7 linked regions of the Homo sapiens genome follow. The protein of the gene in region 1 purifies or fractionates together with the protein of each later gene. This does not show direct contact. Each region holds a gene or a part of one and is shown in the gene's direction. Other genes may lie near its edges.

Evidence for each region.
Region 2: the proteins of PCDHGA4 (region 1) and EIF2AK3 purify together in Homo sapiens (affinity purification with mass spectrometry; one large-scale study listed by BioGRID and IntAct). This does not show direct contact.
Region 3: the proteins of PCDHGA4 (region 1) and MELK purify together in Homo sapiens (affinity purification with mass spectrometry; one large-scale study listed by BioGRID and IntAct). This does not show direct contact.
Region 4: the proteins of PCDHGA4 (region 1) and SPSB4 purify together in Homo sapiens (co-immunoprecipitation; one large-scale study listed by IntAct). This does not show direct contact.
Region 5: the proteins of PCDHGA4 (region 1) and ITFG1 purify together in Homo sapiens (affinity purification with mass spectrometry; one large-scale study listed by BioGRID and IntAct). This does not show direct contact.
Region 6: the proteins of PCDHGA4 (region 1) and EMILIN2 purify together in Homo sapiens (affinity purification with mass spectrometry; one large-scale study listed by BioGRID and IntAct). This does not show direct contact.
Region 7: the proteins of PCDHGA4 (region 1) and ZNF518A purify together in Homo sapiens (affinity purification with mass spectrometry; one large-scale study listed by BioGRID and IntAct). This does not show direct contact.

The regions. Positions count from the first base shown.
Region 1 is NC_000005.10:141,358,021-141,361,520, forward strand, and holds part of PCDHGA4 (protocadherin gamma-A4 isoform 1 precursor), read left to right. Parts: intron 1-1,973; exon of another isoform or gene 1,974-2,115; coding exon of another isoform or gene 2,116-3,500. Other genes in the region: PCDHGB2 (protocadherin gamma-B2 isoform 1 precursor), read left to right, coding at 2,116-3,500. UniProt on the Homo sapiens protein: Potential calcium-dependent cell-adhesion protein. May be involved in the establishment and maintenance of specific neuronal connections in the brain.
Region 2 is NC_000002.12:88,568,465-88,571,964, reverse strand, and holds part of EIF2AK3 (eukaryotic translation initiation factor 2-alpha kinase 3 isoform 1 precursor), read left to right. Parts: intron 1-923; coding exon 924-1,091; intron 1,092-3,500. UniProt on the Homo sapiens protein: Metabolic-stress sensing protein kinase that phosphorylates the alpha subunit of eukaryotic translation initiation factor 2 (EIF2S1/eIF-2-alpha) in response to various stress, such as unfolded protein response (UPR).
Region 3 is NC_000009.12:36,659,895-36,663,394, forward strand, and holds part of MELK (maternal embryonic leucine zipper kinase), read left to right. Parts: intron 1-3,500. UniProt on the Homo sapiens protein: Serine/threonine-protein kinase involved in various processes such as cell cycle regulation, self-renewal of stem cells, apoptosis and splicing regulation. Has a broad substrate specificity; phosphorylates BCL2L14, CDC25B, MAP3K5/ASK1 and ZNF622.
Region 4 is NC_000003.12:141,054,347-141,057,846, forward strand, and holds part of SPSB4 (SPRY domain-containing SOCS box protein 4), read left to right. Parts: intron 1-3,500. UniProt on the Homo sapiens protein: Substrate recognition component of a SCF-like ECS (Elongin BC-CUL2/5-SOCS-box protein) E3 ubiquitin-protein ligase complex which mediates the ubiquitination and subsequent proteasomal degradation of target proteins.
Region 5 is NC_000016.10:47,153,891-47,157,063, reverse strand, and holds the end of ITFG1 (T-cell immunomodulatory protein isoform 1 precursor), read left to right. Parts: intron 1-1,285; coding exon 1,286-1,345; 3' UTR 1,346-2,673; downstream 2,674-3,173. UniProt on the Homo sapiens protein: Modulator of T-cell function. Has a protective effect in graft versus host disease model.
Region 6 is NC_000018.10:2,885,006-2,888,505, forward strand, and holds part of EMILIN2 (EMILIN-2 precursor), read left to right. Parts: coding exon 1-134; intron 135-3,500. UniProt on the Homo sapiens protein: May be responsible for anchoring smooth muscle cells to elastic fibers, and may be involved not only in the formation of the elastic fiber, but also in the processes that regulate vessel assembly. Has cell adhesive capacity.
Region 7 is NC_000010.11:96,133,297-96,136,796, forward strand, and holds part of ZNF518A (zinc finger protein 518A), read left to right. Parts: exon of another isoform or gene 1-286; 5' UTR 287-352; exon of another isoform or gene 353-3,058; intron 3,059-3,118; exon of another isoform or gene 3,119-3,500.

The DNA.
Region 1 (3,500 bases):
CTCTACTAAAATACAAAAAGTTAGCTAGGCGTGGTGGTGTGTGCCCGTAGTCCCAGCTACCCTGGAGGCTGAGGCATGAGAATTGCTTGAACCTGGGAGGCAGAGGTTGCAATGAGCTGAGATCATGACACTGTACTCCAGCCTGGGCAACAGAGCAAGCCTCTGTCTCCAAAAAGTAAAATAAAATAAAGTAAAATAAAGAATAAATTTCCTTTTCTCTTAGGTGTTCCTGAAAAGATACAAGAGACCTGTAAAATAGAAGGCAATTGTGTAAATTCACATTTACAATATTCTTTCTCATGAAGCTATTGTTGGATCTGGACTGAGGGTTTTTTAATTTCCTATTTTCACACTCTACCATGCTTTGCTTGAAGTTTACTTTTCCTTCCTTGAAAGGGTATTTTCCATTATAACAGGCAACGTCAATTTAAGAATACTGGCAATTTGTGAGTTTAACTTTTAGATATAACTTTAACAGGATATTTTCTCAATGAACTGGTATATTTCAAATATTTTCTTGTTGCTGTTCTGAGATGCACCAGAAGTGACTATGTGTGATTCCTCTGGTGCACTCCTGTGATTATGAGAAATATTTCCAAGCTAATTTCAGTCATATATAAGTAGATTCTAGGAGTAACTTTAATAATTTTTAAATTGCTTATCATGACATCACTATTGAGACTTTCTTGATTTCCAAGGAAAATATAAGTTTTTGGAGTCTTTTCTCTTGTCATCATGTGAGCCTCTTTCAAAGGTTGAGTTACTTGGGTTCTGGACTGATATGATTTACGCTGCTTAGTAAGGTGGCCTCATCCCTATTGCTACAAATTGCTTTCAGATATTTCTGTCATCATGTGGCTCTGGGATTATTTTATATGAGGGAAAATATTTTGTGTGTAGGGGATATACAACACTTTTGTTCTTTGTGCTTTCATTTAGGTTCTGTGAGAATTCAAAATTCATGAATGCATATGCTTACACAAATTAGTGTAATTTGATAACTGGAAGTTGTAGTGATAGACTGTGGAATATGCCTCAATTTGACTTACAAAGGAGAGTTTTAGTTTCTACATGGTTTTGTATTCATAGAAAGTTGTGGTGCAATACATAGAGTAAGCTGGAATATGATATGATGCAGTTACCTGGCTTGGGGAGCAGAAAGCAGAAATAACAAGTGAATGTTGAGAGACAACTTACATCTGAGGAGAGATTGTTTAAAGTAATTAAGCCATAAAATATAATTTGGAAATGCTCAATTGGTCTGAAACTGTGTCAAGCATATTCAGGTGTTGGCATTAGGAATATATTCCAGAATGAGAGTGCCACATGTTTTAAAGGCCTAGGAAAGCAGTAGATAATTTATAACCTAAAATCAAATTTTTTAAAAAATGTGTTTTTGTTAGAATGGGCAGTGGGTTTCTTTTAGCAAATAACAATTTTGATTAAACAAATTGTTGTATATTCATATTACGGACTACTAGATAACTATATTATGGGCCACTAGATAACTATAAGAAATAAATAGGAAAGCTCTCTATGTACTGATATGATCTTTAAGATATAACAACTAAAAAAGCAATGTGCAGAATATGGTATGTTGTATGCTTACATTTGTGTAAAGAAGGAGACAGAATATTTATAAAAATCCGTTGCCCTATACAAGACATATCTCCGGAAGGATACCTAAGAAACTTTAACACTCATTTCCCCTGTGAAAGCATTTCTCCTCATCTAAAGCAGAGATGAAAGGAAGAACCTATGCTGAATGCATCTTTTGAATTTGGAACTATATGAATATTTCACATATTTTAAAACAAATGAAGACTTTATAAATTAAAAAAGAAAAGAAAAGAAAAAAGTTCTTAGCAAATATTGACAAGCCATTAGTGCAGTTTCCTGAGAAAACCTCTGAGCGTCGCTGTTGGTCAAAAGAACGAAGAGAAGCGTTTGGGAGCCTCTTAGAGGGGAACTTCCTGCACAAACCAACCACACAGAGAAGGCCAGTATAGATTCGGAAACAGAAAACAAAAGCAGGAAAAGTGACCTTAGCCCGGATTCTGCCATCCCCGGAAGGCTTATTCCTCCTATGGGCAAAGGAGCAAAGGGAGCCAGAAGATGAAAGCGAGCTCAGGGAGGTGCGGGCTGGTGCGGTGGCTGCAGGTACTGTTGCCCTTCCTGTTGTCTTTGTTCCCCGGGGCTCTCCCAGTCCAGATCCGCTATTCAATTCCAGAGGAGCTGGCCAAAAACTCGGTCGTAGGAAACCTCGCCAAGGATCTGGGGCTCAGCGTCCGGGACTTGCCAGCCCGGAAGCTGCGGGTTAGCGCGGAGAAGGAATATTTCACAGTAAACCCAGAAAGCGGAGACTTACTTGTGAGTGACAGAATAGACCGAGAACAGATATGCGGGAAGCAGCCTCTGTGTGTTCTGGATTTCGATACTGTCGCTGAAAATCCACTAAATATTTTCTACATAGCAGTAATTGTGCAGGATATAAATGATAATACCCCGCTATTCAAACAGACTAAGATTAATTTAAAAATTGGCGAATCCACTAAGCCAGGTACAACATTTCCACTTGACCCAGCCCTGGATTCAGATGTTGGTCCTAACTCACTACAAAGATACCACCTTAATGACAACGAGTACTTTGATCTCGCTGAGAAACAGACTCCAGATGGTCGTAAATATCCTGAGTTGATTCTAAAACACTCTCTGGACAGAGAAGAGCACAGTTTACATCAATTGGTCCTCACAGCTGTGGATGGCGGAGACCCACCTCAAAGTGGCACGACCCAAATCCGAATCAAAGTCACGGATGCCAACGATAACCCTCCAGTGTTCAGCCAGGACGTGTACAGGGTCACCCTGAGGGAGGACGTGCCGCCGGGCTTCTTTGTGCTTCAAGTGACAGCCACCGACCGGGATGAAGGCATAAACGCAGAGATCACCTACTCCTTTCATAATGTGGACGAACAAGTGAAACACTTTTTCAACTTAAATGAAAAAACAGGAGAAATCACGACAAAGGATGATTTGGATTTTGAGATTGCAAGTAGTTACACTCTGAGTATCGAAGCAAAAGATCCTGGAGATCTAGCAGCCCACTGCAGTATCCAAGTTGAAATTCTTGATGACAACGATTGTGCACCTGAAGTTATTGTGACTTCAGTATCTACTCCCCTACCGGAGGATTCGCCACCAGGAACAGTGATCGCCTTGATAAAAACGAGAGACAGAGACTCTGGAGAAAATGGAGAAGTTTACTGCCAAGTGTTGGGAAATGCCAAGTTTATTTTGAAATCTTCCTCAAAGAACTATTACAAACTAGTGACAGACGGCGCTCTGGACCGGGAGGAGATCCCAGAATACAATCTCACCATCACAGCCACCGACGGGGGCAAGCCGCCCCTCTCCTCCAGCATAATTGTCACCCTGCACATCTCCGACGTCAACGATAATGCCCCAGTTTTCCAACAGACTTCCTACATGGTTCACGTGGC
Region 2 (3,500 bases), on another chromosome or scaffold:
TAGAGTAGACTCTGAGGGAGAGGTGATGTATTTCATGTAGGGCACCTTGGGTTTGAGAAGCCCATGAGACCTCTGGTTAGATGTATTCAATAAACAGTGTAATATGAGTTTAGAACTCAGGGCAGAGATCTGGGAGTAGATATAGTCTTGAGAACATAGAGGTTTTACGAGAGGCAGCATAGAGTAGTAGTGAAGAGCTCTTATCCCTTCTGATAATCTATATCCCCCTCAGACGCAAACCAAAAGATCAGTCTGTTTCATTCATTCACCAAATAGTAATTAGCTACCATAGAGCAAGAACTGGACTGAAATCTGGGCACGTGGCAGTGGATCACAAGGTCCTTTCCTCATAGAGCCAGACTGCTCAGGTCTGAATCCCTGCTTCACCACTTGCTAGTTGGGTAACCTTGGGCAATTTGTTTAACTTCTGGGCCTCACTTTCTATGTCTGTAAAATGGGGTTAGTACTCATCTAATGGGGTTGTAGTACATGAGTTAGTAGTAGTAAACTGCTTTGAACAGTGCCTAGCACATTGCAAGTTCTATTTATGAACTAGTTATTATTAGTTATAATTATTAAGGCTTTAAGTCATAAGTGTAGAGATGCTTGCCTGGGAAGAATATATAGAATAATAAGATTGAGGATTAAGTACCATGATCCCTAGGGAATGTGCACCTCAAAGGGTTTAAGTAGATGTTCAATAAATACTAGCACTCTTTGCTACCCTTCCCTTTTCTTTACTAGCAGTACTTGTCTGGCACAGAAAAATTGTCACTATTTTCCTGTTAGCCCATTTTAAAAAGAAATATGCTTGAAAATATCTAGTTTGTTGTATTTTTTCTTTGTAGTCTTTTAAATAATTCTCTTTACTTTTTCGCCTCCATGCACACCCACTGTACTTTTGTCTGTTGTATTCTTTCCAGCCATCCAACATATTCTTTACAATGGATGATGTGGTCAAGGTTGGAGACTTTGGGTTAGTGACTGCAATGGACCAGGATGAGGAAGAGCAGACGGTTCTGACCCCAATGCCAGCTTATGCCAGACACACAGGACAAGTAGGGACCAAACTGTATATGAGCCCAGAGCAGGTGAGTTTTTCAGACCTTTACTTACTAGCACAGCAGCAGATGTACCTGATGAATCTCTTCTCATGTTTTCATTAAAATACCCAGTAATCTAAAACCCAGTAAGTCTGAAAATTATGAAAACTGGCAGTAGTGTTCCAGTAGTGGAATAGTGACACAGCTAAGATGTAGTTTCTACAACCTGAATTGGGGCTGGATTAAGAAAAATACAACACATAAAATGCACTCACCCCCTGAACAAGCACCTGACAGCAACCAGGAATTTGGAAAGAGACTTTGAATGCCACCCTCCCAAACTTAACTCGTTTGCCTTGTGTAGACTGTGTTGGAACTGTTTTCAGAGCCAGCTAGACCCAGAGGTACTATACTGAGCTGCCCTTTGTGGTCACTCATAGGCAACTTCCAGCATGTACCACAGTAGGAAATAGAGGCACACAGGCCGGCAGGTGTTGCCTTGTGGGCTGCTTGGCCTTCACAGGAAAAGCACTGTAATCAGGGCAGGGACTGGAAGAGCTGGGGGAGCAGGGCATCCTGGAAGCATCAGGCGAGCATGCTCAGCCACCACCAGGCAAATGATCTTCACAAGCTTCTCTATGCTTAGAGCAGCGGGTCTCGGACGTTTTGGGCTCAGTACATACTTACACTTGTAGAAATAACTGAGAACCCAAAAGGTTTTCTTAACAAAATTTTATCTATCGATATTTGTTATATTAGAAGTTAAAAGAGAAATTTATAAAACTTTATTAAATCAACTAAATAACAATGAAACCTATCACATCTTAAGATATTTTTATGAAAAATAAGTATTTTCTAAAACAAAAAAAAATTACAGGCACCAATTCCCCTGCAAAAAAAAAAAATTAGAGTGACATTTGTTTACATTTTTGCCAGTCTCTTTAAAGCTAACTTATAAAAGTGCTACATTCTTCTATCTGCTTTTGTGTTCAATCTGTTGCAGTATGTTATTTTGGCTGAAGTACATGAGGAAATCTGGCCTCGCACAGATATGTAGTTGGAAAAAAGAGCAATATTTCATTTCAAGTAATTGTAGATATTTTGTCTTTGATAGTATATCAAAACTTAGTAAATGATAGTTTCTTAGAAGTCATTTACACTGTGGAATCTAAAACCATTCATGAATATTTTGTACTCTGGTACTTTTAACATCCCTTGGTCCATTTTGTACTTTGAATGGATCTTTTTACCCATGCTTGACTTTACATTGTGCATTAGTCATTTGGAAACTATTGGTTCCCTAAGTTTGGCAACTATTCCAAAAGTCATCACAGTTCATTATGTAATATAAAAAGTCACTTTGGTTAATACAACCACCAATCTCACCAGAAAAGGCTTTATGTACATATTAGGAGGCTATCAAATTCCCACTGGTAGACTGAAATCTTCCAAAATTTTAATTTTCACTTAAAAGCTCAACTTTTAACATTGGCAACAAATACTGTTAGTTTTCCTTGAAATGCCATTCTCACATTGTTCATCTTTTTTTCTCTTTAAAAAAAAAATGTTGTTTGTTTTTTTTTTTGAGATGGGGTCTTGCTGTGTTACCCAGACTAGTTTTGAACTTCTGGCCGCAAGCCATCCTTGAACCTCAGCCTCCCAAAGTGCTGGGATCACAGGCGTGAGCTACCATGCCCGGTCTCATTGTTCATCTTTAAGAAAGTGTCCCTCGGCCAGTCGCAGTGGCTCACACCTATAATCCCAGCACTTTGGGAGGCCGAGGCAGGCAGATTACCTGAGGCCAGGAGTTCGAGACCAGCATGGCCAACATGGTGAAACCCCGTCTCTTGTAAAAACACAAAAATTAGCTGGGCATAGTAACGCATGCCTGTAGTCCCAGCTACCCAGGAGGCTGAGGCACAAGAATTGCTTGAACTTAGGAGGCAGAGGTTGCAGTGAGCCGAGATTGCACCACTGCACTTCAGCCTGGGTGACAGAGCAAGACTCCATCTCGAAAAAAAAACTCTCTGTCAAGTATCCAAGTCTCAATAACTGTAGTTTGTCTACCAATTATTCTTTCAAGTCAAAATGGTGTTCTATGAAAAGAGCAGCTAGAGCATATTGTAACTCAAATAATTGCACAAATGCTAATGATACTCACAAGCTAATCTATGCTTACATCAGCAGGTCTCAACTTCTTAAAATTAGTTTGTTTTTTAAATTGACTCATAATTGTACATATTTATGGGGTACATACTGTCGTTTTAATACATACACTATTTAGTGATTGGATCAGGGTTATTAGCATATCCAAGGTATCAAACTTGGAGACAACTATTGTACTTTGGTATGGAGCATAAATGTTTTTCTGAATATTTTCCATTTTGTCAGATTATTAAAAAGGTGTATATTTAAAGGTTGAGATTTAATAAATTAATAATTTCTACTGCTAAGGAC
Region 3 (3,500 bases), on another chromosome or scaffold:
GTTCAAGCAATTCTCCTGCCTCAGCCTCCCATGGAGCTGGGATTACAGGCATGCGCCACCACACCTGGCTAATTTTGTATTTTTAGTAGAGACGAGGTTTCACCATGTTGGTCAGGCTGGTCTCGAACTGCTGACCTCAAGTGATCCACCTGCCTCAGCCTCCCAAAGTGCTGGGATTACAGGCGTGAGCCACCATGCCCAGCCCCTTCTAAAGTCTTTCCTGAGCAAATGCACAGCCCTGGGTATGAGCACATCCTATACATGTACATTGGGCTTGTAGATACCCTGGTATATTTTGGAGCTTTTCCAATTCACTGTGGACATCTTATTCTCTAACTTTTTTTTCAGCATTTTTGTTAGTTTATTGTGGTCACCAGCTATTACTTACTGCTTCGGCAGCCACAATGTGCAACAATTGCCTGTAAATTTTTTTTTGTTTTTGAGATAGGATCTCATTCCGTCAACCAGGCTGGAGTCCAGTGGTGTGATCATGGCTCACTGCAGCCTCGACCTCCTGGGCTTAAGCAATTTTCTTGCCTCAGCCTCCCGAGTATCGGGGACTATAGGCATGCACCACCATGCCCAGCTAATTTTTACAAAATTATTTTGTAGAGACAGGGTCTCAATATTTTGCCCAGGCTGGTCTCAAACTCCTGGACTCAAGAGATCCACCCGCGTTGGCCTCCCAAAGTGCTGGGATTACAGGCGTGAGCCACTGCGCCTGGCACCTCTAAATCTTTTTAACAGATGCTGCTGGGGAAAAGGCTGTTCATACTGGGCAGGCTCTGAGTAAGGTCAAATAAAGACAGCTTTCAGGCTGGGTGCAGTGGCTCACGCCTGTAATCCCAGCACTTTGGGGGGCTGAGGCGGGTGGATCACCTGAGGTCGGGAGTTCAAGACCTACCTGACCAACATGGAGAAACCCCGTCTCTACTAAAAATACAAAATTAGCTGCCTGTGGTGGCACATGCCTGTAATCCCAGCTACTCGGAAGGCTGAGGCAGGAGAATTGCTTGAACCCGGGAGGTGGAGTTTGCAGTGAGCTGAGTTCACGCCATTACACTCCAGCCTGGGCAACAAGAGCAAAACTCCGTCTCAAATAAAAAACAAACAAAGAATAAAAAAAGACAGCTTTCATAGTAGGGTCTTCTAGGGAACTACTGGCCAGGCTAAATAATGACAGTTTTCTGAGCATGAAGCTTTGAAGGAGCTCCAACCTGTTCTGCCCCCTCCAGCGGCTCCTAGGTTGCTGGTCTTCATCGTGATTGTGGGCTGTGGGTTTCTAAGACTATCATAGAGCTGGAGAGAGAAGAATGGGGATAGGTAGGGCAAATTCAAACACCTCAAACTCACTGTTTCTACTTAGCTGTTTTCTATGAATAAATGCTGCGATCTTTGGCTAATACACAGAGTTCTGAAACAAAAGAGGTATACTTTGTTTATGGATAGGGAGATTTGAAGGTATAGATTTCAGTTTTTCCCAAAATGAATTTTAAATTTAATGTAATCTCAACTTTTCAGTGGATGTAAAATAAGTCAAAATGATTCTAAAATGTATGTGGAAATACAAAGGGGCAAGAATAACTAAATCATTCCTAAAGAATAAGAAGATGGGAGGAAACTGGTCAACCTGATAAAAGAACTATTATAAAATTAAAGAAAGTAAGATTTCCTTAATAAATAAAACAATGAAACAAATAAAACAATGAAACCTTTCATACCTTATATTTAGGTATGTCTCTTTAAAAATAACATAGCTAGGCCGGGCGCGGTGGCTCACGCCTGTAATCCCAGCACTTTGGGAGGCCAAGGTGGGTGGATCATGAGGTCAGGAGATTGAGACCATCCTGGCTAACACAATGAAACTCCATCTCTACTAAAAAATACAAAAAATTAGCTGGGCATGGTGGCGGGCACCTCTAGTCCCAGTTACTTGGGAGGCTGAGGCAGGAGAATGGCATGAACCCGGGAGGCGGAGCTTGCAGTGAGCCGAGATTGCACCACTGCACTCCAGCCTAGGTGACAGAGCGAGACTCCGTCTCAAAAAAAAAAAAAAAAAAAACAAAACAAACAAAGAAAAAAACATAGCTAGATTTGGTATGCAAACTGAAAATCTTGTCTTTTGAATTGAGCGCTTACCCAACTTATTTTTATTATGGATTTAGTTATTATATATCTTTCTTTTTTTATGTTTCCTATGTGTCTTTTTCTGTATTTCCCCCTTATTTCTTGATTTTTTATGTTAATTTCCCCCCACATTTTATTGGTTTCTATTTGATTTCTATTCTTTTAATATTTACTCTAAATTTTTAACATTTAATTTAACGAAATATAAAGTGAATCTGTATCTTTTTTTTTTTTTTTTTAAGATGGAATCTTGCTCTGTTGCCCAGGCTTGAGTGCAATGGCGTGATCTCAGGCTCACTGCAACCTCTTCCTCCTGGGTTCAAGTGATTCTCCTGCCTCAGCCTCCCAAGTAGCCGGGTTTACAGGCACCCGCCACCATGTCTGGCTAATTTTTGTATTTTTAGTAGAGACAGGGTTTCACCATGTTGGCCAGGCTGGTCTCGAACTCCTGACCTCAGGTGATCCACCTGCCTCGGCCTCCCAAAGTGCTAGAATTACAGGCGTGAGCCCCTGCACCCTGCTGTGAATCTGTATGTTTAATTTCCTTCTAAACAATATGAAGGCCTTAGAACACTTAATCTCTGATTACCCCTCCTGGATTCCATGCTATTGATGTGTCCAGTGTATTAGCTCTTGAATGTTTTTAACTTTTTATTTTGAAATATTTATGGATTCACAGGATGTTATTGAAGATATTATTCCACTTTCTTCTTGCTTCTATTGTTGCTATTGAAAAACCAACCTCAGTCTAGTGCCTTTTTAGTCTGTCTTTTCTCTCTGGCTCCTTTTAGGACCTTCTCTTTGCTTTTGGTGTTCTGCAGTTTCACTGTTAGGGCTACTGCGTTGCACACCTCCAGGGAACACACCATCTGTGTGGTGTCTCTGTGGATAGTGTCCTCTGGAGTTGTATAATCTGGTAAATAGAGATGTGGATTTCTTTTATGTATCCAGTTCATGATTCATCATGCTTTCTATGTATGGGGATTTGTATTTTTAATCAATTTTTGAAAATTTCTTGAATAATATACTGCTTTTTCTTTTTCTCCTTTTCCTTGTTTCTTTTTTTTTTTCTTTTTGAGACAGAGTTTCTCTCTTCTTGCCCAGGCTGGAGTGCAATGGCACGATCTCAGCTTACTGCAACCTCTGCTTCCCAGGTTCAAGCGATTTTCCTACCTCAGCCTCCCGAGTAGCTGGGATTACAGGTGCCTGTCCCCATGCCCAGCTAATTTTTGTATTATTAGTAGAGACAGAGTTTCACCATGTTGGCCAGGCTGGTCTTGTACTCCTGACCTCAGGTGATCACATGACTTGGCCTCCCAAAGTGCTGGGATTACAGGTGTGAGCCAGCGCACCCAGCCTGCTTTTCTTTAAAA
Region 4 (3,500 bases), on another chromosome or scaffold:
ATAGTATGTACTCTTGATTTATGTGAACATGACCATCTGTGGTAAGAAAAGATCAACTATAAAAAATTTTTAAACCAGCAACACGTTTTTAATAAAACATGGTTCCTACATAAGCCAACTAATTTATTTGCTGCTGATCAGTTCAAGAAATAGGGATTTGTTTTGAGGCTATAGGAAAAACAGTTGTGGGTGGTGTGCCCTTTGGGAAAGAGGTGGTATACCTCAAACCAGTTATCATGAACTTTGTGTGGAACTTTAGAAGAACTTTCCTAAGCAGTGTTGATTGCATGTGATTTTTGCTTCACACATTGAGTTCAGAACTTACTCCATTTAAAATGTATACGTGTGGTGGTTCATGCCCGTAATCCCAGCACTTTGGGAGGCCGAGGCGGGGGGATCGCAAGGTCAGGAGATCGAGACTATCCTGGCTAACACAGTGAAACCCCGTCTCTACTAAAAATACAAAAAATTAGCCCGGCGTGGCGGCTTGCGCCTGTAGTCCCAGCTGCTGGGGAGGCTGAGGCAGGAGAATGGCATGAACCTGGGACGCAGAGCTTGCAGTGAGCCGAGATGGCACCACTGCACTCCAGCCTGGGCAACAGAGCGAGACTCCGTCTCAAAAAAAAAAAAAAAATGCAAACCATGCAGGAGGTATAGAGTGGCTAGTCCTTCTTCAGTCTGACAAGCACGTCTTAATGCAGCCAGAGGTAACAGGTACAAGGCTGTGTACGAGTATTGGAGATAAAGGCTGGTTGGGCACTGGCTCCATTAAGAAATGCAGATGTGGTGCAAGAGATAGCAGCAGGAATCAACAGCTAAGATGAAGACAAAGTGGGTTGGAGGGCAGAGGGTGCAGTGGGACGTAGGCAAGAGGACATAATGGGGCGGAGGGAAGAGGATGTAGTGGGCTGAGGGGCTGCCACGGAGGGGTGCCCAGTTCTGCTTCTGCTAGAAGGGGCAGGGGAGTGAGAGAATGTCAGCCAGGTCAGAGAAGATGGGAAGAGTCCCAGGATGTGCTGACGAGGAGAGTCTGGCATGACTGGTCTGAGGTGGGCCGTGATGACAGACAGTGTGGAAGAAATAAGAGCAGCCTGGAGGGCCCCTGGGTGCCAAGCAAAGAGGTGCAGCTTCTCTCTGGAGAAGCTGCCTGGAGGGTTGAATGAAGAGATTGGTGGGTGTCTTGGTCCAACTTACCTGTTGGCAGCATGGAGAGTGGGTTGGCGGGCAAACAGTGGAGTCAGGGAAGCCTGCTAAGAGACCAGTGGAGTAATCCAGGCAAGTTCTGAACTAGGGGAAAGCTGACGGGGTTGAGTGGTGGGGACCAAGAGACGGGATCCATGGCAGGAACAGTGACATGCAGAGGAACCTGGCATGTGAGAGAGGGAAGAGGCCAGGCTCAGCCTAGGACCTGCAGATTCCGAGGTGCACATGGACCACAGATGTCCCGCAGGGCTGAGAGTGTGGGTGTGCCCATGGTAGGAGGCTTATGATGGAAAGAGGTCAGCTGGCCTTACAAGGTCATTTGAAACAACACCCAGGCAGGGCTGACCAGGGGCTTCTAGTAGGTAGGTCTTGTGCTGAGGAGAGAAGGCAGCACTGGAGACCCGGCTTGAGAGTGTCTGCACGGGGCTGGAGATGCAGGTCATAAGAGAAGATGCATGGAGAGAGAGAGTGAAAAGCGGAAACTGAAGTTGAAGCAATGGACTTGGGGGTGCCCCATTGATGGGGTAGGCAGGAAGACATTGGAGCCAGGAGGAGGCAGGAAAGCTGCTGTGGTAAGCTCTACACTTCAATGTGCTGGTATGTGTGGTGGGAGACGCTGGAGCAGTGCCAAAGTCATCCATCTGACCTTTAATGTTGTGAAATGTCATGTATGGTGAACTGGAGCTCTGCTTTCTCCAGAAGTGAGTGGGCCTTGGCCCGGTTTACTGGCCACAGAGACATTCTACCTGTTATCTACCTTCAGGAGACATCTACCTGTTATCTGCATTCTATGAAATGTGCAAGTTGTACAGATTCCTGGGGCTGGAGCAGCTCCCTCCCCGATCCTGCTCCCTTTCTCCTCTCTTCCTCTCATCCTCTCTCCTTTCCTCCTTAGTATCTCAAAAATGCCCCCAGAGATACTGTAGGCTTAACAGAGGGATCTTCAGAAATCCCAGCAGGTCCCTATTATGACCTGGCTCAAGCCAGAGGCATGAATAGTTCTGCTTTTCTTTTAGGCATTCTGTTTCCAGACAACCAGTTATACCAAGTGGAGAAGGTTCATCTTGGGAGGTAAATGAGGGATTGGACGCAAACCTTATCATGTTTTCATCATCGTTTTCCCCAGAGGGCTTCATTAAATGGTACCCTTCCCATCTTCTCCCTTCATGCTTTGACCCAGCCCAGACATGCTGGGCCTCAGGGAATCCAGCTGCCCTGCAAACAACCTCCACATGTGCCTGGGGCAGGCCTCTGGGCTCAGGGGCAGCTGTGGTGACCGGGCTGGCCCGGACTGCACGTGGCCTTGCTGTCTCAGTGGTATGTCTCTTTCAAATGACCTTGCAGAGCTTGCTGCCCTGGTCACAGCCTAGCAAACCTCCTTCATCCCATTTGCTGCTCTCCTTGCTGGCTGACAGCCCAGCTTGCACCTTGGGGGCCCCTGGCTCAGTCACGCGTGGGAGGATTCCCATGGAAACCCCAGGAGGAGGAGAGGCTCAGGGAAGCCTCATTGATTCTCGCTCCAGGAAAACAGGCGTGAGATGATTCCACCTGGAACTGGACAGATGGCTCTCTTTGTGAGCTCTTGGGGAAGAAAGGGCTTGCCCAGCCAGTTGTAGCCTGAGCTCCATGTGTGTATAGCAGGGAAAAGCTAATGAATGCCTATGAACAAAACCTTGGGGGTTCTTTAGTTCATTCATTGTTGGTGGGTTCATTCTGAATGAGCATCTTTAATAAAACAGCCTCCCTACTTAATATTTGCACAAGAAAAATCTTAAAAACATTCCAGTTAAACTAAGGTCAGGCACCTATCATTGGTACCTTTGCACAGAGTCAAAAATTGAAAAATAAAGACATGAAATAAATAGTCTGAGCTCACAGTGCTCTGCATTCCCAGTTCATTCTTAAGTGTTGGTTCTTTCTAAGGCAGTGTATTGCTTTTCTTCATTTGTTCGTGCTCGTGCATTCCATAGACGTTCACCCACCACTTTCTCTAAGCCAGGTCCATGGGGACTCTGATGAGGGACACCCGGCCCCTGCTCCCAAGTTGCCCCAGTCCGATGGGAGGGAGGCAGCCAAAGAGACATCATGTCCCCTTGTGATAAGAGCTGTGGTGGGCACAAGTACAAGGGCTCTGAGAGCACAGGGGGCTGGGGAGCTCCCCAGAGGCACTAATATCTAATATCCTGAAAGCCTCAGAGAACCTGTCGAGGATTTTGAGCAGGAGCGTGATTAGATCAACTGTGTACTTTTACAAGTGCAGTAGTATATATTTGAAAGTAATATGCAGTCTATAAAGG
Region 5 (3,173 bases), on another chromosome or scaffold:
ACAGCTGACTCCACTTCTACATTCCTACTGCACTGCCCCTTCTTACATCCTACTTGGTCTCTTTCTTTCCGTTCTCTCCCCTTTCCATTCTCTCCCCTTTCCATTCCATTTAGCACACTGCTGCCAGTGATTCATTCTGTTTAGCCTTCATCATGTCACTCCCCTGCTGAAAAAGCTCTAGTGAATATCCATTGCCTTTTATGTATAAAATCCTTGGCCTGGCCTGCATATGACTTCCATGTGACTCCACAGTCGTATTTTTTACCAGTTGCTTTCACATATCCGTGCTCCTTCCAGCCTTCTCATGATTGATCATGTTGTAACCCCAGCTTGGAGTGAATACCACTCTCCCCATTTCCATACTTTCAAATGCTTTCCCTGTCTTTTCAAAGCTTTCCCTTTCCTCACCCGGATCTAGAAGTAGTCTCTTAGACTTGGTAACATTTTTCACTTTTTATCTTGAACTACAGTTATACAATATGTTTTGCATTTGTCTTTTTGGAGAACAAGATACAAAACGGAGGTTTTTTTAATATTAAAATAGCAAACACAGTATTGGTATTGGGAGTATTAGAAGCAAAGGGCCAATGAATATCTGCTAAATTGACAAGTTAATGAAAAAATAATTAGTACATTAGTACTCTGTCACCCAGGCTGGAGTGCAGTGGTGCAATCTTGACTCACCGCAACTTCCGCTCCTGGGTTCAAGCGATTCTCCTGCCTTAGCCTCCCAAGAAGCTGTGATTACAGGTGCCCACCACCACACTCAGCTAATTTTTGTATTTTTTTGGTAGAGACGGGGTTTCACCATGTTGGCCAGGCTGGTCTCGAATTCCTCACCTCAAGTTATCTGCCCTCCTTGGCCTCCCAAAATGCTGGGATTACAGGCATGAGCCACCACCACACCCAGCCATTAGATTTGTTTATTAACATCATTGTTAAAAATGACAGAAAAATGCAATCATTGATTCATCCTTATAGAATCTAATACTTATTCCTATTTTCAAGTAGATAATAAATGATAAGAAGCTAAGTATTTAAGGACCCTAAGTATTTAATGTGCCTTAAGTATTCAAGTATTTATTGTTTTTTAATCAATTAGATCATTAATTATAAAATAGCTACTATAAACTACAAAAATACTAGGACTGTTGAATTAGGAAATCATATCTATTATCTGCTAATTGCTGGAGACTTTTAAAAATGAATCACTGTGTATTTCAGAAATGAGTCTTTTCATAACATCTTTCTACCATTTATAAACGAGTCTAAAATTCTTTTTCAGAAAGCAGATGATAGAGAAAAACGACAAGAAGCCCACCGGTTTCATTTTGATGCTATGTGACTTGCCTTTAATATTACATAATGGAATGGCTGTTCACTTGATTAGTTGAAACACAAATTCTGGCTTGAAAAAATAGGGGAGATTAAATATTATTTATAAATGATGTATCCCATGGTAATTATTGGAAAGTATTCAAATAAATATGGTTTGAATATGTCACAAGGTCTTTTTTTTTAAAGCACTTTGTATATAAAAATTTGGGTTCTCTATTCTGTAGTGCTGTACATTTTTGTTCCTTTGTGGAATGTGTTGCATGTACTCCAGTGTTTGTGTATTTATAATCTTATTTGCATCATGATGATGGAAAAAGTTGTGTAAATAAAAATAATTAAATGAGCAGGAATTTTTGTGTCCACTTGACTTGGTCTTGCTTCTTATTCTAATGATGCAAATTATACTTTTGTGAATATATCACGGAGTCATTAGGCATTCAGCTTCATCACAGCAGGTCAGGGGTCTCACTGATGGCATACAATATAGTGATCGGGTACTCTGACTTGGTAGCACAGTAAGACAGACTTGCCTTAAACTCCTAATTCAACCACTTACAAAGTCATTGTTTGAACTTGGCTCTTGTTTAACCTCTGTAAACCTCAGTTTTCTTGTTTATTCAGTGGGGCTAATACTTGAGTTACTGTAAACATTAAATGGGATGATGTATGTGAAGTGCTTAGCTTGGTGCCTAGCACAGAGTAAGTGGTCAATATGTGGTAGTTGTCATTATTAATATTTTAGATGATCTTATTAGACTTATACATCTAATTATAGAAATACATAGACTTGATAGAATTTTATTTTCAGGCATGAAGAAATATTCTTTGGAAAAGCTAAATTTTTGGTGATTGACATAAAGATTTACTTGCTCATATTAACTAAAAATTATAGTACTCTCCAAGAATTAATGTGCCCTAAAAATTTTCCTCCAAAAACTTATCCTTATCATGTGATAATGAAGAACATTTGATTTCTTGAAAGGAAACTGCTGTAGGCAGCATCTGGGAATGCAAATCTTCAATCACATTTCTATTCTCAAACACTTGGAGAAGTCTATAATTTACATTCAGACTTCAATGCAAATTTTGTATTGTGAACTTCACATTTCCAAAAAGTTACTTTAAAAAGACTTTAAGACTGAAAAAAAAAAGTTTATCAATGCTAATAATTTTCTAGTATGCAAATGGACATGTGATGCCTATAAAACACAAAAATTTCTCTGAAAACAATTTTGTTCTTATTTTTTTCTTTATAGTTCACTGAGATTGGCATGTGTTTTTACTTTGTATCTAAGCATGTTAACATGTCTTCTTAATAAATATTCCTTATTGAAACAAAGTATTTCAGTGAGTTTTTAAATAATTATTTTAGAGCATGAAGAGACCTTAGAGCTTATGAAAGCATTTATCTGGACTGGGAGACCAGGGTAAGGTGACTTGCCCACTGCCTCTCTGTGGGTCACGGGCAAGATAGGATTCTCCTGACTGTAATACTCAGTTAAATTCACTAGTTATCAGCCCACAGCACTGTCCCAGGCACTACGTGACACTTTCTCAAAGATAATTGGGATCATTATTGATATAGCCTGAGTCTTCAAACTCATGTGAATCAGAGTTTACAAGACAAATAAAATGTTAATGACAATTAAAACTACAATCAGTGACATTAATACTGCTTCTGTATTTCCAAATGCAACTTTAATATCATTTATTAAGGGACAGCAGGTAAAAAATGTATCACAACATTGAGAATCACTAACAAAAACCTTTGTTTTGATTTTGAATATTGCAGTGGAAAGAGAGCAAGGCTTTGAAGTCAGACCAGTCTGGATTCA
Region 6 (3,500 bases), on another chromosome or scaffold:
GACAGTGACACAGTTGGAATGGAGGTGCTGTCCTGGCTTTAGAGGGGGAGATTGCCAAGAAGGTCCCAAAGACCCCGTGAAGACCCTCCGCCCCACGCCGGCTCGGCCTCGAAACAGCTTGAAGAAAGCCACAGGTAACTTCTTATTTGTGCTATTATGTATGGCCACCTTTAATATTTCCGGTGCTCCTTCAAACAACAGGATTTGTGCTTTACAATGGTGAGCTTTGAATGGCCTTCGAATAACACACATAGATACCTGCAGTAGCCACATGTGACAAATTTATTCTCAGGAGCAGTAGCAATTGTAAGACAAACTTCCTTGCAAGTAAATTGCTTTGCTAGGGCCAGCTTGTTGTGAAAGCCAATGCCTTAAACATCAGGGTAGGAAATGCCAGTGGGTTCAGACTTGTGTCACCTGGAGGCACAGCTGTGAAGAGATTCAGATGTAATGATGTACTGTTTGTTTTTACTTGGGCCCATACATCTGAATTTAGGGGGGTTAAAATTGTTTTTTATTTTTTATTTTTTTGAGATGGAGTCTCGCTCTGTCGCCCAGGCTGGAGTGCAGTGGCGCAATCTCGGTTCACTGCAACCTCTGCCTACCTGGTTCAAGCAATTCTCCTGCCTTGGCCTCCGAGTAGCTGGGATTACAGGCGCCTGCCACCATGCCCGGCTGATTTTTGTACTTTTGGTAGAGATGGGGTTTCACCATGTTGGCCAGGCTGGTCTCCAACTCCTGACCTCAAGTGATCTGCCCACCTCGGCCTCCCAAAGTGCTGGGATTACAGGCGTGAGCCACTGTGCCTGGCCATCACTTCATCTTTTTAAGTTCAGTCACAATAAATGCAGCCTAGGTTTTCTTATGAAATTAGATGCTTAAATGATTATATTTTGCCATGAGGTGTTCTCAGGTTTGAAACTCGTAGTTCTTCCCAACATTGTCTGTAAAAATAGATTTTAAAATGACTTTTTAACTACAAAAGTAATGCACATCAATTAAAGAATGTTTGAAAAATATTTAAGGATACATAATCTCATGACTAAATGAGAACTACTGTTGACATTTTGTTATAGAACCTTACTCTCTTTCCTATGTCTGTACATTGATTTTGTTAAAGAAAAATTCATTTATCTCACAAATATTTATTGAACTTCTATATCTGTCAGGCTCTATACTGGGTACTTGGAATAAGTGAGAAAAAAGGCAGACAGAGTCCCTGACTTCATGGAAGGCAGACATTAGAGAGTAATTACAATAATTCATGACAGATACTGGGATGGAGGGAACATGACATGGGGGCTGGTGGATTGTAATCATTTATTTTTGTTTTGTTTCATTTTAGTTTTTGTTTGACAGAAGTTTAAGCATATTGTAGTTTAATAAGTTGAATAGCTTTATAAGGACTAATAGGAAAAACAATGACCACCCTGAAACCCTTTTTCTCATTTTCCCTTCCCATGGGTAGTACTTTAAACTCTTCAGATGAATCTTTTGGAATTTACCTCCATATCTATTGGTTTTTCATTATGGAAGGTGAGAATTTAACTCCCTTTCATCCACTCCTCAACACATGGCTCCTATCCCCCCATCCCTTCCATACAGTTAGACCATATTCTTTATTTACTCAGTATTCAGTGTTTACATTGTAGTAACTATGTAGATAATGTTTACAGCTGAGCCATGTGGTGTACTATGAATAGATTTTCTTTCCTACGCAGCTTTTTGATTCCTTACAGTTAAATCATTGTCTTATGTTTTTCCTTTGCTTAGTTTTCTCTCTTTTTATTGCTATTTCAACCCAACTCTTCTCTGGCTCTCTAAATGTCCCCTCCATATGTTCAGACACAGCATTTTCATCTTCTTGAAGAAGTCTCCCTTGAGCCTTCTCACTTGCCCTACCTGGACGGGACATCCTCTTTTCCTGTCTTCACCCGAGGATCTTAACTTGCCCCTCTCCTGTTGAATTCCCTGTTTCCTGTGTCCCCTGCTCCCTCTTTCTTGGCTTAGCCCCTTGCTTTGCTTGAGCATGTCCTTTAGTAGCTTCATGAGACAATTACATGGGAAGCAAACTTTTTACCACTTTATAGTATGAACACTATTTTTTATTCTAGCTTCAGAAATCTAGGTCAGAAATCACTTTCCTTCAGAATTTTGACAATAGTGCTCAGTTTTTCTCTAGCTTCCAATATTGCTGCTAAAAAAACACCAAAACTTTTCTGACTCCCAGTTTTTTGTGTGTGACTTGAGTAGGTTTTTTTGTCTCCCTCCTCCTTTTATTTTGTCCTTTTAGTGGGATTTTAGGAAGGAGTAAAAAGAAATGCTTTTCCTCTGATATAGTTTGAATGTTTGTCCCCTCCAAATCTCATGTTGCAATGTGATCTTCAATGTGGGAGATGGGGTATCATGGGAGGTGTTTGGGTCATGGAGGTTGATCCTTCATGAATGGCTTGGTACCCTCCTTGCGGTAATAAATGAGTTCTTGCTCTGTTAGTACACGAGAGCTGGTTGGTTGGAAGAGCCTGGCACCTTCTCCCTTCCCTCTTGCTCCCTCTCGCTCCCTCTCTTACCATGTGACACACTGGCCCTCTTTTCACCTTCCGTCATGAGTAGAAGCTTCCTGAGGTCCTGACCAGAAGCAGTTGCTGACACCATGTTTCTTGTACAGCCTACAAAACTGTGAGCCAAATAAACCTCTTTTCTTCACAAATTACCCAGTCTCAGATATTCCTTTATTTCAATACAGAATGGACAAACATACCCTGAATTCACTGTCATTATAAAAAAAATACTATTTTTACAACTTTTTCTATTTTAGAGACAGGGTCTTGCTCTGTAACCCAGGCTGGAGTGTAGTGGCATGATTACTGCTCACAACCTTGGACTCCTGGACTCAAGTGATCCTCCCACCTCAGCATCCCAAAGTGCTGGGGTTACAGGCAGAACCACTGCACTCGACCTGGAACTTATTTTTTATTGAATAACCTATAATGGACAACCTTCCATGTCATGAAATATTCTACAATACTACTTAATGGCTTGAGAGAATGTGAGTTATTGAACACCATCCTCTACTGTTGGTCACTTAGGTTGTTTGTAATTTTTCACTATTATAGATAATATATGAATATGCATCTTTTCCTGTTAAATTTTTGCACTCATTTCTGATTATTCACTAGAATAAATTTCTTGAAGTGTAATTGTAGGGTCAAAAGATTCTGAGTATTTTGATACATGTTGCCAAATTATCCTTTGAAAAAAATGCAATTTGCACAGTCACCGTGGTATATGAGCAAAGCATTTCCTTACATCCTCAATCTTCCCCCCTTTGCCGCCCTTTGTTTTTATTTCCTTTGCTTAGAATAGCATTCCACTTGCACATGATTCAGTAACTTGTTTTTTTCTTTAGTGTCTTAAGAGAGAATAACGGCCGGGCGCGGTGGCTCACGTCTGTAATCCCAGCACTTTGGGAGGCCGAGGCGGGTGGATCACAAGGTCAG
Region 7 (3,500 bases), on another chromosome or scaffold:
TACCTAAAGAAAAATTATCTGATATGTGTTTATATTATGACTAATAGCATCTTCATTATGAATCAGGAAAGGGACTTGGGAATCACTATAGTGTTATGATTGGTTTCTTGAAGACAGTCATGTGAATGTCTGGGTGTAGACAAAAAAGGAGGAAAAATATGCCAACAAATCTATGGTATTATAAGGAAAGCTTTGGAAATGTAGTGGAAAATATTGTACCCATGTAAAAAAACATGTTTTTTCTACCCTCAAAACACAGATGTCTCCTACTCTTTGTGTTGGATAGGTCCTGGGATCTTTGAAATGCTAAGATTCTTGGATACCACAGTATCATAAAATTCCTCTAAATGCAGTAAGTATACACATAAGTATGACCGTAAATTAGGAATAAGATTATTTATGTAACTGCTGAAATAGCTGACATAGACTATACCACCTTACAGTATTGCTTTAATTATCATAATAACCGTGTTCTTCCCTGAACTTCACCAGCAAATGGATTTCTGTTCAGGGCCATTTTTTTACAAAGGCATGAATTTTTATTTTGTCAGAAAATAATGTACATTGAGTAGAGAGCAGTAGAGCTGAGTTGAGGTACCACGTTATCGTTTATGTCATTAAGTAACTTTTTCCTATATAATATTTGTTTGACTTCCTACCACGAGATTCACATGGGTACTGTGTTATTCCTGAAGAGATAAAGTAATTCTGAATGCTAAGAATTTTCCTAAAGGTTGAGCATCCCAAATCTAAAAGCCTGAAATCTAAAATACTCCAAAATCTGAAACTTTTTGAGTGCTGACATGAAGCTCAAAGGCAATCATCACTGGAACATTTTGGATTTTGGATATTCAGCCAGTAAGTAATGCAAATATTCCAAAATCCACAAAAATCTGAAATCTGAAACACTTCTGGTTCCAAGCTTTTTTGTTTTGTTTTGTTTTGTTTTTTTGAGACGGAGTCTCACTCTGCCACCCAGGCTGGAGTGCAGTGGCGCGATCTCGGCTCACTACAACCTCTGCCTCCCAGGTGCAAGCAATTCTTCTGCCTCAGCCTCCCGAGTAGCTGGGACTATAGGCGCATGCCACCATGGCTGGCTAATTTTTTTTTTATTTTTAGTGGAGACGAGGCTTCGCCATGTTGGCCAGGCTGGTCTAGAACTCCTGACCTTGAGTGATCTGTCTGCTTTGGCCTCCCAAAGTGCTGGGATTACAGGGGTGAGCCACTGCTCCCGGCCTACTTCCAAGCATTTTGGTTAAGGAATATTCAGTTTGTACTATTTGACCCAGACTACTCAGAAAAAGTAATGTAATGAAGAATGAAAGCTGTAGTTGTAGTGAAGTAAATAGGAGACTGCTGTGTGATGACTGACCAAAACGATTTGTATTAATTTATCTTGAAAACTTGTGAGCAAAGTCTGACTAAAAATTTAAAGTTGTGACTGGTATGGCTGCATGAAACAAGTGTCAGAATATTAGAATGAAGGTACATGATGTGAAGTTTCAGAAAATTAAGTGGGCTTCACATAGGTCTCATTTCATGAGGAAAGTCAGATAATTTCAAAATGTAGTAAGCTTATCGTCAATTCCTGATTAATATTGGTTTGTTGAAGGTTGTGGCTGGTAAAAGACATGTCATATATTGTTTTTGTCAACTCAGTATCTCTTCATTAGAGAACCACCCCTCCCCTATTCTGAGTGGTTGGTGGGCTGTCCGTCAGTCTTACTGTCTTATAACCTGAGCTTGGTCATCCCTATTGCAACAGTGATTGCTGTTACTCATGCAGAGCCAGTCAGAATCCTTTTTTTGAAATTTATGGTTGAATGCTAGGACAAAGATACTACCTTTTCTCTGAAATTGTTAATCTGGGAAGGTGCTGGTGGCATTCTTTACCACGTGTATGAAAAGCGCATCTGTGTAGTGGGAGAAAGTGAAGCCATAAGGAGATGGGAGATGGATGGTGGTAGTGCCAGTTTCAATCTCAGGGAACATGGTAAGTGGTACCTACTTTTCTTTTGATTTTGTGAACTATCCTGGTGTCCTTCTCAGTCCTTGTGCCAAAATTTTTTGTGTAAATTGGTTTGAATTGGATTGCAGCAGAAAGTGTTCTGATGAATATATGGCCCTTATGAATTTAAGGTCTAAAGTTTCAGATTGATCATTCACATCCTTCTGTAGTTCCCCACTTTCCTATACCTTATAAAGAGTTCCCTTTATTTATTCATCATTTGTGCATGCATTCAATCTACTTTCACTCAACCTACAAACATTTTTTTGAGTGTCCACTATGTACAAGTATGTGCAACTGCCTGGATAGGCAAGATTATATGTACTAGACTGAGTGGATGGTGGATATATAGCATATTTTTATTTATTTCTGGTGCACAGATTAATAAGCGTGTGTTGAGAATAATGACTGTGGTGCTTGGCATCTAAGTAATAATGTAAGAACAAGAAGAATTCCTTGTCTTGGAAGTGCTTCTAGTTAGGAATTCATATTAATATACAGCAAACACAACAGAAAAAACAGATAAATGAATGCACAGTTGTATTTTAAGTGAATTTTGATGGGAAGGAAGTGAGCAGGTTGGCCCATTTAGGAAGATTTCCTGAAGAATATACAACTTTAAATGTATTTCTGCTTATGAATGTGGCTTTGATAGGCACAGAGAATAACTGAAAAAAGGATGGAGTTAAAAATGATTATAGGCTGATCCAGGTTGGAGTGGAGATTGGTTTCACTGTAACAGTATGTGTTCTTTGGAAATGAGGTAGTGGAAAATAAGGTGACTGTTTTAGGTAAATCTATGTATGAGGCATTTGGAAAGCCAAGCAGAAATTTTGGCCCTTTCTACTAAGATGGAGATTTCTTTGAAAAAATGTGTATATTTCTTTTCATATAATTTCATTTTTGTATGCTAAAATGTGAATTAAATGTGATGAAATACTGTAAAATTACTCATTTTGGCAAAAACCTTTGTTTTATTCATCTGTCTTGAAGATTTTTTAAAAATAGCAATTAACTTGGAATGCCGATTTATAAATATGTATATATAACCTTTCTCAAAAAGGGAAAGGTAAGAAGAAATGTTATATATATTTATTTATTTCTTCTTACCTTTCCCTTTTTGAGAGATCTCTTAGTAATAGTCAAAGCCATACCCTATTCCTTAGTGAGAAAGCCAGTTTGAAACGAATGTAGCAATAGATGTAAAAACATTTAAAGGCGTTTTAATGTGGCTTTTTAATGAGCTGGCTTATGCCTGTAGTCCCAGCACATTGAGCAGCTGAGCTGGGAGGATCGCTTGAGCCCAGGAGTTCAAGACTAGCCAGGGCAACATAGTGAGACCCCATCTCTATTTAAAAAAAAATGTTTTTAAAGATAAGGAACAGACTTAAAGTGATGATTGATTGCTCATAGAACGTTCATTTTGGGCTCCAGAACTAGGAATGATGTAGAATTTATTGTTGTGTCATTGTCTCATTAAATGCTGTAGTTT